Homo sapiens: one gene and its partners. The protein of the gene in region 3 purifies or fractionates together with the protein of the main gene of each other region. This does not show direct contact. Each region holds a gene or a part of one and is shown on either strand. Other genes may lie near its edges.

Region 1 (3,500 bases), on a different chromosome or scaffold from region 3:
CTTGCTTGCATTATTTTTCTCCATAGCACTCATGCTTGTCTGTCGTACATATTTATTTCTTTATGTATTTTTGTCTTTCTCCACTTAAATGTAGACTCTATGAGAGCAGGGATTTTTGTCTTGAGGCTGGCATAAAGTAGGTACTCAACAACTATTTGTTGCATGAATGTGGATACATAACATGAATGAGCTTACTTTCTCTTACATTGCTTTTTTTTACTGAGGCAAGACTACTGCCAATATTCTTATAGATTTGGGAATGACCAGTTTCCCTGTGGCTTTAGGAGGCAGTGAGTAATTGAATCATTAAATAAATGTGGTGCCTTTGGATCCTGGAAAATAACTAGGAAAATGACCTAGTTCTTACAGGGGTTTATATGAGGGGTCTTCCGGTAAGGAAATAACCCAGTTATTGTATGGGGGGAGGAGTTCTGCCAGTAAGGAGGAAGACTGTGAACCAACATGAGAAAGAGCTCTCATTTTTAGCCTTGAGGTTGAAATATAGTGCAGTTGCAAGATTAAAACCATCTTTGCCTGGATGAAGGGACTTGAGAAGCTGGTATGTTGGGAAAGTATGGAAGAGGAATTGTTCTTAAGAGATTAACAGATTCTTTAACTCAATGCTAAACTATTTGAGAACTGTAAATCTATATACTTGTTCCTTGCCTAATTGTTAGTTTGTATTCCAAACATCTCTCCAGTTGTTAATAAAAAGTTTATCTACTTGAAGAATCTGAAATGAGGACAAGGAGGTGTGTTGGTGGGATGGGGGAGCTTAGAGTAGTGACATTTTTCCAGAGTGAAACAGGAAAAGCTTTTGAAGGAGAAACTGCCCCGATTTTTCAAACTGTAATAGGACTGAATGTATTTTGGGAGGGTTTTCTAGGAGAGTAGTTTTTCACATGGGAATGGAAACTTCTAAAGAGAAGTCGTAACAAATGTGAGAAAGGAAATAAAAGCAGAAGCTACCTTTCAGCTCAAGACATTAGTGTGTGTGTGTGTGTGTGTATGTGTATGTGTATACACATGTACACACCTGTGAACAGGCGCTTGCAAATCGGCAAAGTGGACGTATATTTAATTAAGCCAGGACCTGAAAAGGGGTAGGGAAGTTTTGGATACAGACACTCTCTTCTCCTTCGCTCCCTTAGGCTAAGGGCATACTGTGCTCTGCACAAGGTTTCCTGGGAGTGGGAGTTGACTGGGCAGACATTCACCTCACCTCGGTGGAGTCATCGTATAGTTTAAAGCAGCAGTTGTCAACCAGGGTCAGTTTGTCTTGAGGTGACATTTGGCAGTGTCTGGAGATATTTTTAATTGTCAAGACTTGGAGGGGAGGGTAATACTACTGCCATCTAGTGAATAGAGGCCAGGGATGCTGCTAGACGTTCTACATTGCACAGCATATTCCCTCACAACAAATAATTATTTGCCCAAATGTCAGTAGTTCCGAGATTGAGAAACCAGCTTAAAGTGTACAGGTGTGTGTCGTATGATTGAGCTAGGGTTCTGTGCTAGTAAAGTTGTTTTGCCTGCAAACATCAGAAAGCTGATCTATTTAAGTAAAAAGGGAAATGTAACAGAAAGCAGAAGAATATCTGAACAACCAAATCAAGGAAAGAACAGGAACCAGCTAGCTCCTAGAATCTCATTGGAAGAGTTCTTGGACCTTCCTCTTAAAGTAGCAGCAGGGTTTTTTAACCTTGGCATCATTGGCATTTTGAAATAGATAGTTCTTTGTTGTGAAGGCTGTTCTGTGCATTGTAGGATGTTTAATGTCTCCAGACATTGCCAAATGTCTCATAGGAGGCAAAATTACTCCTGGTTGGGAGCTACAGCTTTAGAGTGCTGGCCTATCTTCCATAATTCCCAGTCTTTGATCTCTCCTGTCAGGTTTCAGAATCCCCTAGAGAGAAAGCCTTTGTGACCCAGTTTTGTCTACCCATGGTTCAATTAGCAATGGCAAAGGGTTGTACAGCAAAAATATGGTAATGGAGAGGGCTATTTTGAGTTAGGCTTGTTGCTCCATTAGTCATCTGTAATAGGCAGTGCACTAAATTAGATTTCCAAGGGCCTCATTTGCTACATTAAGGAAATTGAACTTTATCCTGGGGGTGAGGAGTGACTACTAATAAAGGTAAGAGGGATATGCTCATTAAAGCAGTCTTATTTTTGAAGTCTAGGGTTTAGGAGCAATATCTGGGGTGGAAATACGGAGTCTACAAATGGACTCTGAGTAACTTAAGTAGAAAATGGGGCCAGGTGTGGTGGCTCATGCCTGTAATCCAAGCACTTTGGGAGGCCAAGTCAGGCAGATCACTTGAGCCCAGCAGTTTGAGATCAGTCTGGGAAACATGATGAAAACTCTGTCTCTACCCCAAATACAAAAATTAGCCAGTCTCATAACCTGGTCTCAAAAAAGAAAAAAAGAATATTCATTATGGACATTCAGAAGGGTTAAACACATGCAGGATTTGGTGCCTGAATGGCAAAGTGATGAGAGGGATTAGAGTGCCTCACTTTGTGTTGATGGGATTGGCCACTAGATTGAGGATATATAAGGAAGGGGAGGAGAGGGCGGTAGCTGATAGCCTGGAGAGAAAAGGAAAGAACCGTCAAAGGATTGGGAATGCTATCTAGGTGGAAAAGTAATGGAGTAAAGGAATGAGATAATTGGAAGGGTTGGAGATTTTGTCTGAAACTGTCACATTGAAGTTTAAGATTTTAGAAGTGAAGTAGATCTGGTTTAGGAAAAGCTATCTGAGGCTGGGCGCCGTGGCTTATGCCTATAATCCTACCACTTTGGGAGGCTGAGGCGGGTGGATCACCTGAGGTCGGGAGTTCGAGACCAGTCTGACCAACACGGTGAAACCCTGTCTCTACTAAAAATGCAAAATTAGCTGGGTGTGGTGGCCCATGCCTGTAATCCCAGCTACTCGGGAGGCTGAGACAGGAGAATTGCTTGAGCCCGGGAGGTGGAAGTTGCAGTGAGCTGAGATCGGGCCATTGCACTCCAGCCTGGGCAACAAGAGCGAAACTCCATCTCAAAAAAAATAAAAAAAAAGAAAAAAAAGAAAAGAAAAGCTATCTGATATGGCCATAGAAGTGAGTTGCTGAAGAAAAGTTAAGGTGCATATAATTGGAGATCAATACTGCTAGGTCTAAAATCTTTCCAGTACTGACCATTCCTAAAAGGAAATGCAGTGTAGCTTATTTAGTCTGCCAGACATTATTTTTTCAAATGCTAACTTCACATCATTACTGATAGGCTAATATTTGTATCATAAACTTTTATGGTAAAGCTCAGTAAATAATTTTTGAGAGTTTATGTATTTAACGTTTTTGAGCACATATATATATATGCCACATAGTGGGCATTAGAGATACAAAGATGAGTAAGACATGGCTTCAGTTTGTGGGAAGCTTCAGCGATTCCTATTCTAATATAAGAAGCATGAGTAGGATCACTAACTGTAACCTATTTCTAAATTGGACTACTT
Region 2 (3,500 bases), on a different chromosome or scaffold from region 3:
AGCCTTGTTTTTGTTTTTTAGAGACGGAATCTTGCTTTGTGCCTAGGCTGGAGTGCAGTGGCGCGATCATGGCACTCTACAGCCTTGACCTCCCAGGCTCAAGTGATCCTCCTGCCTCAGCCTCCTGAGTAGCTGAGACCATGCACCACCATGCCCCTGGCTAATTTAAAAATTTCTTTGTAGAGATCAAGTCTTGCTATGTTGCCCATGCTGGTCTTGAACTCCTGGCTTCAAGGAATCCTGCCTCAGCCTCCCAAAGTGCCGGGATTACAGGGGTGAGCCACTGCGCCCAGCCTGAACATACAGTTTTTTTTGTTTTTTGTTTTTTTTTTTGAGACTGAGTCTCACTCTGTCGCCCAAGCTGGGGTGCAGTGGCACGATCTCGGCTCACTGCAACCTCTGCCTCCTGGGTTCAAGCGATTCTCCTGTCTTGCCCTCCCAAGTAGCTGGGACTACAGGCGCGTGCCACCACACCCGGCTGATTTTTTTTTTTTTTTTTTAGTAGAGACAGGGTTTCACCATGTTAGCCAGGATGGTCTCGATCTCCTGACCTCGTGATCCGCCTGCCTCAGCCTCCCAAAGTGCTGGGATTACAGGCGTGAGCCACCGTGCCTGGCCTGAACATATAATTTTTAAAGAAAAATTTTAGCAGTATATGCTTACACATTCCTTGGCGAACACAGTGCCTTTTTTATTAATAGATGAAGTAGGAATAAGTATCACAGACATTGGGGAAAATTTCTGATTTTCTCAGCATTGGGCAGGGGACTGAGGAAGAGGTCACATTATAGTTGCAATTTCAGGACTCCAGGAAGAGGTGGTAAATTATGAGTCTTGTTAGGGGAAAGGCCAAACTCCTGGGGCTTTTGTGTTTGTTTAGCTTGGAAAAGCTGCCTAATCACATGTGACATTTGTGTCTCTGTGTAGTCTTTACCACATACAGGCTAGCCTGCCTGGGGAGGAACTATGACTCTGTGGCTTCCCAAACCTGATGGGGAAAGAGAGAGACGGGAAGGCATATCAAGTTAAATAAAGATATAGTGTATTAAATAAATACTGTAGGTGTTTGATAATTACTTGTTGCTGATGATGCCATTTGACCTACAGGAGAATGGCCCACAGCAGAGAGGATACACCAGTGAGTCATATTATGCTTATTTGGACATGAAGTTTTTCAGATGATAAAGTATCTTGTTGGAATGCACCCTCCTTAGTAGTAGAGTATTTTGGTAAACGAGATTTGAAGAGAATGGTATTCAATATGATTTTCTTAAATGCCTACCCTAGGCCAGGCACTAATCTGGGCACTGGAGATGCAGTGAGGAAGAAATATAAATGCCTTTTAAAGGGTTTAACTCTTGGTTTTCATGACTGCTGCTCAATGCAAATAGCTTTAATGCCCAGTATTCATTTAAATAGACCTTGGAAGAAACCTTTTCTTAGAAACACAAAGCAATGATTTAAAAAATATTCAAAATTGATTTTTCACTAAATTAGGTTTTTCTTGTTTTACGTGACCTAAGCTAATGACCTTTCGTTATACAAATAAGAAGAAATATGATCAATTGTAAAGAAAGGCAAGCATCTATCGTTAATGGAAGGAGCATGGGCTCTGGAGCCAAACATGCCAGATTCACCTTCCAGCCCTGCCACTAATCAGCAGGGCAGCCTTTTGCAGTGGTGCAATCTCGGTTCATTGCAACCTCTGCCCCCCCGAGTTCAAGTGATTTTCCTGCCTCATCCTCCCGAGTAGCTGGGACTGCAGGTGCACGCCACCACGCCCGGCTAATTTTTGTATCTTTAGTAGAGATGGGGTTTCATCATGTTGGCCAGGATCGTCTTGATCTCTTGACCTGGTGATCCGCCTGCCTTGGCCTCCCAAAGTGCTGGGATTACAGGCGTGAGCCACTGCGCCCGGCCCTGAGCCTTAGTTTTCTTATCTGTAAAAGATAAGGAGGAAGAATAATACATACCTAGTAGTTTTTTTTGGCGCATTGGGGATAAAGTTTTTATTATAGTGCCTGACATATAAATAGATGTTTAATAAAGAGTCGCTATATAATGTAGCCAAAGAAGTTAGGTCCACTGTGATGGCATGGATGACAGAAACCCGGCTAGCTCTTTTAAAACCCATCAGGAGCCTTAATTATTTATTTTAAATGACCGCAGGAAATGTGAACCTCAGCGATAGAGACCTGGCTGATAGACATGATAGATATTTTGAAAACATGTTAGATGAAATTCAGAGGCATAGAAGAGTTCAGCATTTCTTTTGGAGAATAAGAGAGCCTGATTGCAAATTTAGCCCTCTTAGTTCATGATGACTGCCTCCACTCATCATCTTGATGAACACTGAGGAGCAGCAAAGATCTTAGAGATCATCGGGGCCAGCCTCCAGTTGATAGTAGGAGTTCCAGGCTCAGAGAGGCTGTTACTTTTCCAAGGTCACTTAGGTGGAAGCTTGTCGGACTAGTCACAACTTCCAGTCATGTTCTTTTTACACTAGACTTTAGTTATTATCACGTTCTTTTCCAAAATAATTATTTCATGCATTTTCTAGTAATAGTTAAATCCTATGTTTCTGTTTCCCTTTCTCATTTTCTTGTGTTGCTTCAGAATAAAGCACTTTTATTTACTTAGCAAGTATTTAATAATAGCCCACTGTGCTAATAAGCACTTTACAAATCTTAAGACAATTTAGTCCCCATAATAACCCTATGAGGTGCATATTAGGCATATTTTATAGATGAAGAAAGGAAGCACAGAAAAGTTAAATAACTTACCCAAAGTTGTAACTAGTAAGTGATAGAGATTCAAATGCAGGCATTCCAATTCCAGAGCTGTGCTCTTCAACCACTCTGCTGCTATAATGCCTCCCATCTATTGAGTGTTTCAAACTGAACATGATCATGTCACTAGCAGCCACCTGAAGAAACAATATTACTAGCATCTGAGAAGCTTCCCACCCTGCCCTGTGTCTCCTTCCAGTCATTATCTCCACCAAAGGGTAACCAATGTCCAGATTTCTAACAGCATAGATTCAATTTTGTATTTTATATAAATTGAATTATATTTATACATTTATGTCTGGCTTCTTTAGTGCAAGATTTGTGAGATTAATCCATATTTTGCATCAAGTTGTAGATTCTTTTTCATTGCTGTATAGCATTTCATTATGTGATAATACCTCAGTTTACTTGTACATTTTACTGTTGATGGACTTCTGGATACCAGTTTAGGGCCGTTATGAACAGCGCTACTAGAAACATTCTAGTACATGTCCTTTAAACAAATGTACGCATTTCTGTTGGGAATATATGTAGGGTAGAATTTTTAGATTGTAGAATATGTATATGTTTAGCTTTAATGGATACACTAAACCATTTTCCAAAGTGGCTATACCAATTTACATTTCCACCAGAAGTGTGTGAGGGATCTGATTATTTTATATCCTTGCCAGTGCTTTGCATTGTAGCCATTCTGGTGAATGTATTTTTAAT
Region 3 (5,404 bases):
ATGTTTCTAATTGCCTATCATTTTTTGCCATGTTGATTAGAAATATGACACCCAGAAAAGCTTATCTTATTTTGTCTTGTGCAACCTGAGAGGATGTGGTCTTCTTCATGTATCAGCTCTTCAAGTATTTGAAGAGAGAAACCATTAAGAGTTAAGTTGAGTACACTGAATCTTATTTTTCAGCTCTGAGGGTCTTGAGTCTGACATTGTGGTTGCCTTTTCTGTTTGGGCTCTCAGCAGCCCTTTTAAGTAGAGATGTTATCCAGAAATGGACACAATGTTCAGAATATGGTCTGACCACCTTAGAGTAAAAAAGCTCATATATTCTGCATACATTTTTATGAATACAACTTGCGATTGTGTTTATGTCTTAGGTACTCTAATTCTTTTTGTATCAGGAAATAAAGAACATTATTTTTTTAATGGCTTTGTTTGTTAAGTGTTTGATGTAAGGTTCTTTATCTTAACTGATTGCTGCATAGAATGAACTGATGGTGCTTTGAGCATTTTATTTCCCCTAATGCCTAATCATGAAATAACACTGCGGCTCTTAGCCACAGTCGGCCTACTTGATTCCATCTAATGGCATGTGGTCTATTGCCTGTATGTTCTTGAGCATTTCCAGCCCTCAGGTAAATTGGTCTTCCCCTTTATTACCAGGTCATCCCGCTCTTCCTATGTGGATGAGGACTGTGACTCCCTGGCCCTCTGTGATCCTCTGCAGAGGACAAATTGTGAAGTTGACAGCCTGCCTGAAAGCTGCTTCGACAGCGGCTTGTCTACCTTGAGAGATCCCAATGAGTATGACTCAGAAGTGGAATACAAGCACCAGAGGGGATTTCAGAGGTCACACGGGGTGCAGGAGAGCTTTGGAGGTGATGCTTCAGACACAGATGTAAGCCCCAGAAACCACTGCTCTCCTAGGCCTTCTACGTGATTGAAATCTGTCACCTTATTTGCCTTCTATCTGTCATGGAAATCTGTTTTAAAGGTCATAGATGTAAAGCATAGTTAGTAAAATGCTTTTTCCTCCACAGAGTTAGGGAGAAATTCTCATAGATTGCCATTCAGTGTCACTCTATTCCCTAATATTAATAGCATTGACTGTTGATTTAGCTGCATAGTTTTCTTCTTTTTAATCCATAATGTATACATTTTAGACTTTGTATTTTAACTGCTGACATTTTTTAATTTAACTGCTGACATTTTAAAAAAAATAGGTTCCTGACATAAGGGATGAAGAGACATTTGGTTTAGAAGATGTGGCTTCCGTCTTAGACTGGAAGCCCCAAGGGTCTGTTAGTGAAGGCAGCATTGTTAGTTCATCAAGAAAGCCCATCTCAGCACTCTCGCCCCAGGTAGGTGGTCTCCGAGACACTCCTATTCATGAACACTGCTTATTTTCTGTGCAGTGTTACTTATTAGGATGAAAACTGGCAATACCGTTATCATTCACTGTGGCTTTTCCCCCCAGACAGACCTGGTAGATGACAACGCTAAATCTTTTAGCTCACAGAAGGCTTACAAGATTGTACTTGCTGGGGACGCTGCAGTGGGGAAGTCTAGTTTCCTCATGAGACTTTGCAAGAATGAATTTCGAGAAAATATAAGCGCCACCCTGGGTATGGCTCGTATTTCGGTTGATAATGGGAAAATGACCTTCCTTAGCTTGATTTTCTCTTCTTCAGGGATTACATACACAGATGCTCAGTTAACAGTTTTCTCTTTCTCTGTGTATGCACACATATATAAATGTGTGTGTGTGTGTGTGTGTGTGTGTGTGTGTGTGTGTGTGTGTGTGTGTGTCTCCTAGTCTATGGAAAGGTCTTTCTTGTTTTGGCCAAGGCCTGCTTTTAGGAAAGGAAGATTAAAATGACAGAGATATCTGGCTGGGTGCGGTGGTTCATGCCTGTAATCCCAGCACTTTGGGAGGCCGAGCCAGGCAGATCACTTGAGGTCAGGAGTTCAAGACCAGCCTGGCCAACATGGCGAAACCCCATCTCTACCAAAAATACAAAAATTAGTTGGGCATGCTGGTGGGTGCTGGTTGTCCCAGCAACTCGGGAGGCTGAGGCTGGAGAGTCGCTTGAACCTGGGAGGCGGAGGTTGCAGTGAGCCGAGATCACACCACTGCACTTCAGCCTGGGTGATAGAGTGAGACCCTGCCACAAAAAAAAAAAAAGAGAGATATCTGCTTAGCCAATCAGATGAATTGAATCAAATTTAGATCCTGAGATATCAGATTCATTTATTCAGCATGTATTTCCTGAGTCCCACTAAAAACAAGATGCTGTTGTAGGTACAAACGATACACCATGAAGAAGGCTGACAATCCCAGCCTGCACTGCACTTACATCCCAGTGGAGGGAAAAGGTACAAAAAAGAAGTTTAGGGAGAGGTGCGGTTTTACGCAGGGTGGCCAGGAAAACCCTTTCTGCTGAAGTATTTGATGTTGACAAAGTGACAATATGGATTGCCACTTTGTCATTATGGTCAAAATCATAGCCAGATATATGATCCGTTACCCACCTTCACAACAGAACAATAGAACAAGTAGTATCCTGATTTCCCAAATTTGCATAATAGTAAAAGGAGTTGAAGATATGCAAATTATCATTTATTTTTCTTCTTCGTCTAAAGAGTTCTTATTTTGATCACCCGAAATGTTAGAACAGACTGATTGTCCTCTTCACATGAGTGTCTTTGTAAATTTATGGTTCTCTGATACACTCTTCAACATTAACAAAGCTGAAAGTTTACTTCAATTTGATTCATAAAAAGACTACATACAGTATTTGGTTCAGTTGTCAGAGACCATGATGCATGTAAATGTGTGTGTGCACTAACGTGTGTATATATACACACGCATATGTATACATGTTTAGATATACATACATTTATACATATATACCTACATATACATATACATACATGCATATACACAAAACACGTATCTGCACCTACACACATACATACACACACGTATACACCTGCACATTCATGCATGCCCACTCATACACACATGTACACACACCCACACACACACACACACAAATATGACTGAGTTCATCCAGTCATCAGGGAAAATAAAACAGATTTTTCCCTTGGCTCATAAATTAAATCATTCCCCAAGTCAGCCAACCTGCAGATGGTGCCTCTGCACACACGTGTGGTCTGACTTGTCATTCCTATTTGAAGGTCACTCTCCTTAAAGGTCATGTTCATTCCTCCCTCCCTGGCTGAGCTGTGTATTATTGGCTTTTGCTTCATCTAAAGAAGGCTTGAAAGTAAAAAGCCAATGGAATTATTTACATCGTGCTCTCCACTCTCACATTCCTTTTCAGGAGTTGATTTCCAAATGAAAACCCTCATTGTGGATGGAGAACGAACAGTTCTGCAGCTCTGGGATACAGCTGGTCAGGAGAGGCAAGTGCATTCCGCAGCGCTATGGGATATCCTGGGTTTGCATTAACAAGCCTTGCAGGCCACTTGATGTTCTTCATACTCAAAATTCTATAATTATAACATACTTTATAATTATATGCATAATTACATGTATAATTATAAAATGTATTATAACTTTAAAATGCTTATATTCTCGCACATCTCCTTCATTTACCTATGACTCCTGTGAGAAGAGGATCTTTAAGCTTCTTTTGAGCTGATGTTCAGTTGAGACAGAGAGTGCCCTTTGCTAACATGAGAGGCAGCATTTTTGAGTGCAGTGACAGCCTGAGGAACTCCCTGGCTATAGAACAATAAATGATGGAGAAGAGAACCAGTCAGCTCCCCTTGATTAAGGGCAGAGGCACAAACCGCATAGCAGACTTGCATTTGGTGATGGCACTTTACCTTGCATTCATTACCGATAAGCAGAGCATTAAGCACAGATTTTAATCTTGTTTAACTCCTTCGGAACAAAATCCATTCAATTGTTCAACCCGTAAGTATGGGGTGCCTGCCTCTGTACCAGGCATTATTCAGCATGCTGAGATTCAGTGGTGAACAGACAGGCACAAATACCTGCCCCCATGGTGCTCATATTCTCTAGCAGATTGGGAATTTCAACATATAAAAAATATTTGTGGTTGACATGACTGTATTTAAAATACTTATAAAATATTGCACTGGGTTTCAAGTTAGGGCATGTGTGTTGAGGTGTTCTCTTCCCAAGGTGAATCTCCTGACCCCCATGTATGTAAAGTCCTGGTATGTTACAGCGTTCCACACTGGTAGTTCCTCCATCCACCCACAATACTCCCTAACCACCACCACCACCAAAAATAAGTATTCTCTAGTTCGTATCTCCTTCCAGCCTCCTCTGTGTCCCACATGTGGGTTCTGGTAGCTTGTTGCTGAGGTTGAAATTTTTGGAAACTGTGCTCTCAACCTTTCCCTGGTTGTGCTCTGGGGATTGTAGACATTCTTGGGGTTGTTTGGTAGAGAGAAGGATTGGATTTTCTAAGTCGGTCACCCAGATTCTCATCATGTTACCTTTCATTGGGTCATTCGAGACCTTTGAAATGCCTATGTCTCAGTCATATATTGCAGTTAGAGTCTTCTCAACTGGTGTTGATTTTAGAAGAGGAGAAAAAAATGAGCATAAAAGAGAAGAAGAATGAGGCAACACAAACTGACTGATGATGTGGTTTTCTCTTTCTCAGATTCAGAAGTATTGCCAAGTCTTACTTCAGAAAGGCAGATGGTGTTTTGCTGCTGTATGATGTTACATGTGAGAAAAGCTTTCTTAACATACGAGAATGGGTAGATATGATTGAGGTAAGAAATCATAATGGAGAAACAGAAAATTACACGAGGAAGTTTTAGGCCATCTTGGAAAATGCTGTCTCTCTTCTTTGTCAGAATGAACTTGATTAGGAACCATTGATCCAAGCCATCAGGAAGAATTGGATGCTACAGGCAGAACTGGCAGCATTCATCTCTTCCTCAGGATTTGGGCACATTTCCCTGAAGCCAAGGACACTAATGAAGGGAGCTTTGGGGAATAAAACTTCTAGGTTTTCTTATAGATAAAATCAGAATCCCATCGTAAGCAAGTAAAAATCCAGGTAGCCTAGGAAGAAGTTATTACAAACAAGGAGATGGTGTGGTTGGTTGTGTAGTGTAGTTGGGGGCATGTGGGGGCATCCACGGGCATGGGAAGTACAGGTGAAACACCACCTGGATATGAGCGTGCGTCAAGTTTCAAATTGTATGGGAGCTCTCTTCTCTTCTCAACCTTATTCTGGTAGTGATTTGGGATCTTTAGATGTCTCAAGGTACTACCGAAATACCAGTTGATATTTTAAACATGGGCATAGCTTCTGTGCTTTCTGTGGTTAAATAAGATGATGTCTTTCACCTAAGGAACATTCCTGTCCTCTGGTTTCATGGTAAATAATTT

The links. The genes of interacting proteins can lie anywhere in the genome.
Region 1: the proteins of RASEF (region 3) and BLTP3B purify together in Homo sapiens (affinity purification with mass spectrometry; one large-scale study listed by BioGRID and IntAct). This does not show direct contact.
Region 2: the proteins of RASEF (region 3) and BLTP3A purify together in Homo sapiens (affinity purification with mass spectrometry; one large-scale study listed by BioGRID and IntAct). This does not show direct contact.

What each region holds. Positions count from the first base shown.
Region 1 is NC_000012.12:100,136,375-100,139,874, reverse strand, and holds part of BLTP3B (bridge-like lipid transfer protein family member 3B), read left to right. Parts: intron 1-3,500. UniProt on the Homo sapiens protein: Tube-forming lipid transport protein which mediates the transfer of lipids between membranes at organelle contact sites. Required for retrograde traffic of vesicle clusters in the early endocytic pathway to the Golgi complex.
Region 2 is NC_000006.12:34,795,083-34,798,582, forward strand, and holds part of BLTP3A (bridge-like lipid transfer protein family member 3A), read left to right. Parts: intron 1-3,500. UniProt on the Homo sapiens protein: Tube-forming lipid transport protein which probably mediates the transfer of lipids between membranes at organelle contact sites. May be involved in the retrograde traffic of vesicle clusters in the endocytic pathway to the Golgi complex.
Region 3 is NC_000009.12:82,996,387-83,001,790, reverse strand, and holds part of RASEF (ras and EF-hand domain-containing protein), read left to right. Parts: intron 1-660; coding exon 661-895; intron 896-1,220; coding exon 1,221-1,358; intron 1,359-1,474; coding exon 1,475-1,622; intron 1,623-3,344; coding exon 3,345-3,426; intron 3,427-4,664; coding exon 4,665-4,779; intron 4,780-5,404.